Linked DNA regions of Homo sapiens. The protein of the gene in region 2 purifies or fractionates together with the protein of the main gene of each other region. This does not show direct contact. Each region holds a gene or a part of one and is shown on either strand. Other genes may lie near its edges.

Evidence for each region.
Region 1: the proteins of HCN1 (region 2) and FAM89A purify together in Homo sapiens (co-immunoprecipitation; one large-scale study listed by IntAct). This does not show direct contact.

Annotation. Positions count from the first base shown.
Region 1 is NC_000001.11:231,018,458-231,020,856, forward strand, and holds the end of FAM89A (protein FAM89A), read right to left. Parts: intron 1,670-2,399; coding exon 1,406-1,669; 3' UTR 501-1,405; downstream 1-500.
Region 2 is NC_000005.10:45,256,627-45,259,637, forward strand, and holds part of HCN1 (potassium/sodium hyperpolarization-activated cyclic nucleotide-gated channel 1), read right to left. Parts: 3' UTR 1-3,011. UniProt on the Homo sapiens protein: Hyperpolarization-activated ion channel that are permeable to sodium and potassium ions. Displays lower selectivity for K(+) over Na(+) ions.

The DNA.
Region 1 (2,399 bases), on a different chromosome or scaffold from region 2:
CAGAAGAGCAGCCAGGCATGGTGGCTCACACTTGTAATCCCAGCACTTTGGGAGGCCGAGGCGGGTGGATCACGAGGTCAGGAGTTCAAGACCAGCTAGGACAACACAGTGAAACCCCATCTCCATTAAAAATACAAAAATCAGCTGGGCGTGGTGGCAGGCGCCTGTAATCCCAGCTACTCGGAAGGCTGAGGTGGGAGAATTGCTTAAACCCAGAGAGGCAGAGGTTGCAGGGAGCCAAGATCGTGCCACTGCACTCCAGCCTAGGCAGCAGAGCTAGACTCCGTCTCAAAGAAAAAAAAGAGCACTGAGAACCAGCTGTAAATGGTGATCTACTCTTGCTAAAACGATTCCTTAAGCTCAACAGAGTCAATCTTGTTTCAAATGCATTTAGTGGCAGAAAAACAAACTAATTTTCTTTCATTATTTGACTGGACTCAATGCATTCAAGTCATGAAAGTTGATGATTCCAAATTCAGAATAAAATAACACATGACACAGATAGTTTAGCATTTTATCCTCATTTTTAACCTACAAAGTGTAATGTTCTCATAAAGTATTTTAATAAATATATTAAGGCTTAAGGTAATTACTGGTTTGAGTGGCGGGTGGTTTGCTTTCTAGCACACTAGTTTACATTCGGAATCTTAAAAATGAAAACATTTGCCATCTTACAGTGAGTGATACATCACATTGGCTTGCCCCAGTTTTTGTGTTCTTTTTTTTTTTTTCACTATTCAACATGTCTTCGTATTATCTTCCTTCCTCTCGTATCTGATAGACAAAGAATGATATAAAATTTTGGTTGAAAAAAGCCAGTTGATTGGGATGACTAGAAATGTTAACTTTTTCAGTAAAAAGCTTTCACCGAATCACTGGGCAGTTAGTAATGCAGCTTACAAATAAATAAAGCTGAGGCGAGAGGTTTAAACAGCAAGAAAAGCTGCAGAGCATATTGAGGAAGGGAAGCAGTGAAATGGTGGTTTTAATACATCCCAAACTGGAAGCAAGAACCCTAACACAAAGAGGATTGGAATACTCTACCATCTGTAAGGAAGTAGCTAGCTACAAGCCACCTCACACAAAACACCCACTAAGGCCTTTCACCGAGATCCTCTTGTTATATTCTCATTATGAATCCCCAGCAGGTGCACCTCAATAAATAGGTGTGGAGGATACTGCTGAGGACCTCTAGGTCACCTAAGCAGAAACTGCTGCCATCAAAGCAGACTGCCACCATGCATCCGCGGAGAACTCCCTGCCTACAAATGAAACTGGTAGCGCTCATCCCCTGTGCCCGAGGACCGTCCACAACGGAGGTGCTTTCTTGCAAGAGAAGCAGCAAATGATGACAGCGTGTCCAGTAGGAAGGGCTTCCCAACAGTCACATCCCTCCCAAGACCCTCTAGATGGACTCCAGAATCCAGTCGCTGCTGGAGAGGGAGGAGACAGGCAGTGACAAGTCCCGAGGAGGGCCTCGGTCCCTCCTGTCGTGCAGGGAGTTCTGCTCCTGGAAATATTCCTCCTCTTCATCGAAGAAGCCGTTCTCCAGAGCGTAAGTGCAGTCTGGGCTGGAGGCTGCCTGGCATGCCCCCTTGTACTCCTGAATCGACTCGTAGAGGCTGTACAGTTGGCAGAGCAAGGACATGTCCAGCTGGCGGAGACCAACCTTGAGGGAAGGGGTGGGGAGGTAAAAAACGAGAAGTCAGCACTTGAGTTTAATTTCAGTGGAACACTCAGCCGGCGATCTGCGCCTGCCAGCACATTCCTTCCACACGGCGCATGATTCAGAGCATCACTCGGATGCTTTGGATTTCCAGTTTTGAGAACACCTTAATTGTGTTATGCCCATACCTCAGACGTTACTCATTGAGTCCAGTGAGGATCGCATCTGTGGGGCAACCAGGGCAGCCTGCAGAATTTACCCTGGCGCTCCTGAGTGTGCCTGATGAAGCAACAGCACTGCATATTCTAGTGGCCCCACCTGCTTTCACTTTGGACGCCAAGAAACGAGTGTGTCACTTCCTCTCCCAATCAGACTCGGAGAAGACCCACATTGGCCTTCCCTGCTACTGCGTTAGGATCTGACTGATGCAGTCATTCTCAACTCCCAGGGGCAACAGAATGCCCTTTGCCAGTGACAGCAGCTGGCCAACGTGACATCCCCCTGGAGCACCCACCTCTGTGCAGTTCAGTGGTCAGAGGTTACACTGCCTCCCTCTCCTCCAGGCAGGGTCAGTCTTATCCCAGATGGTTCTGGGATCCCTCCCCAGAGTAACTGACTGAATATGAGGAAGCCCTGGAAGATGAAGGGCTCTACAGTTCCTCCTGAAAACTAGCCCCACAAAAACAAGCAGCAAAAGAACACAGAACATTTATAAAAGTCATATACTTGTTTA
Region 2 (3,011 bases):
TCAAGCGATCCTCCTGCCTTAACTTTCTGAGTAACTAGGACTACAGGAATACACCACCTATAGTCGGGTTTTCTAAACACTGCAGGTATGTAAGTATATACTGGTCAATTAAAAAAATTTTTTTTCCTTGTAGAGACCAGGTCTTGACATGCTGCCCTGGTTGGTCTCCAATTCCTGGCCTCAAGCATTCCTCCCACTTTGGCCTCCCAAAGTGCTAGGATTACAGGCATGAGCCACCACGCCTGGCCTGAGAACTTGCTTTATTTTAGCCAAAATTATTTTATCACTTCTTTCCCTTCTCACAGGTTCTAGCTCTTATCTTCTTGTACCCCTTCCCTGCCGCAATATATTATCTTACGCAAAGCAAGTAAACTTTCAGTTTCCTATTCCCATTACTCTATTTAGCAAACCTAGGACCTTCCTTAGGACCCAGCATCCTCACAAGGCAGGGTGGGGTTGTAAATAGCCCCCAGTTTTTGCTGTGTCATAAATTATTTTATTCCTTGTTACATTAGCAAAACAGACATTTCAATGTGAATCCTCCCCGTTGATAAGCTTAAATTAAGAATATAAAGTACAACACTGTAAAACCTTTGCCCTGATGTTAAAAGCCTTTCAGAAGGTTTTTGAAATCCCTATTTCCCACTTGATCTGGGTTCCTCTTCACCCTGTGAGACACTCCAGCTGCATTGAACTGCCAGTGTTCCCAATCAGCTGTGCTCTGTTAAACATCCACATTTTAGAAAAGCATGCTTAATTTTTCACTAAATGATAATTATTTCCCCAGCATTTAATGTATTACTCATTCTCTCCACATCAAGGACCTTGTAAACAAATTCAGAGCATTATCTGTAGGTTCTTTTAAGATCATCTTTAAATAATTTTCAAGGTGGGATGCGGGGAGTGTCAGCAAGGCTTCTCTCATTAAAAAACCTTAAAATCTCCATTTGTCCCTGTCAAAGCCTGAATTGGAAGCAGGGTCAGCATTAGGGTGAGACAAGAGATGCAGGGTTGTGCAAGTGCAGGGTTGTTAAAAAGGAAAAAAATTGAAATTGCTTAAGAAAGTCATTGCTTTTGAGGGGTAATAGCAGGTGTACTTCCCTAAGTACAATAGCAAATCTTTCAAAGAAAATTTCTATCCTATTTTTCCTTGAAAATAACCATATTGAATACAGTTATAGAACTGTATTTTATTTATTTGTATGTGCTACAATTTGGTGCATGCAGCAACCACAGTTCCTTAAATTTTTGGCCATTGTTTTCAGGACTCAAAATAGCTCAGCATTCCATTCTATAAGGCCCATGTTTCTTTCCCATGGTACAGTATGAGTACTTTTTAAAGTAGGTGAACATAAAATAAAAGTTTGCTAGTTGTAGTGCATATGAACAAAATAACCACATGGGTTTTATGGCACATGTTCTAAAAAGATAAAGATATAATGGAGAGATATCTCATTCAAACAGGTTAACATTATAAACAGTGCAAGTGAGGGCCATAGAAGCAAAGTAACATAGTAAAATTAACAAATATAAAAACCTAAGCTGAAAGAGGAGGTATGGAGATTTTTTAAATAGTCCTGAAAGATAATAGAGATTGCTCATAATTTGAAGTAGACATAATTCAGGATTTGAAATAAATCATCTAAAATTTTAAACATGTCATATTGTTTAAATCATTCTCTGTCCTATAGGAATGACGGTAATAACTTGACTATGTACTTTGTAGTGTCCTGAAAATAGTATGCTCAGTTAAGTTTATAAATTGCAAAATAACCATCTCTTTAAAGTGGAACAGCATTCATCAGGGAATTGTTCACTTATGAAGAGGTCATCCAGACCTGGAGACAAGCTACTTTTTTGGTGAATAGAATATATTGCCATTGCTACTATTTATCCTCCTTGTTTTCAGGAATGCTTCACTACTTATTCTCATTATGATAAACTCTATCTCAGGCTTTTAGGTATCATTTAAAACCCACTTGTGTGGGGAGGTTCTATCACTCTCCAAATAACTTTGCAGGGCCCAAGGCTATAAATATGAATATATTTATACAAACCTATTTTGTTATAATAGGGCCTTGGGCCTACTATACAAACCTATTTTGTTTAAGGCTATAAATATGAATGTATTTATATAAACCTGTTTTGTTATAATAGAGCCCAAGGCCCTATTATAACAAAATAGGTATGTTATAAAACTATTATAACAAAATAGGTATGTCATAGAACTATTATAACAAAATAGGTTTGTATAAATATATTACAGGACAATTATTTACCATTATTACAGGAAAATTATTTCTCATCTGTATATCCAATAATTACACAAAATGGTTGTGTTTTGAAGTTGGAGAACAACCACATTCTAAAAAGGCACAGAGCAAAAAAGAAAATAAGCTCATATTTTACTATACGAAAAAGGTAAACAAAGAAGTGGTTGAAAAATCCATGTTCTATTTAAAGTCCTCTCATTCCAGAATTATAGAATATAATTGATTTTATGTGATTATCAAGTATAAGCTCTTGGAAATTTTATGATGTAAAAATAGAGGCAAAGCTGTACTCATTAATAAAATAAAACATTTGATTAGCATATATTGATAAAATAAAATATTCATGATTGTAGTTTATTTTTTGTTGAATTTATTAATAATCTTTATATATATTTATATATGTATGGCTTTGAGCAAAGACAAAAGAAATACTCTAACTCATCCCTGATCATACAGTTGTTGTAAGAATCAGCTATTCTATTATCTTTCCAGCAGCAGAAAGACCAATGAATAATACATTTCTTTCTGTACAGATTAAAACTCCATACATACGGGCTTCACTATGTACAGAGAAAAGAGGTCACTTTTCAACTAGCAATGGACCTTTATATTACAGGAATGTGAGTCATTTTTTTTTCTTAATCTAAGTATATATACATTCATACATATATGTATATAATTTACCCTGTACCTTTTTATTAGTTTAATATATAAACCTTAGTTTTTTTGTCCATTCTA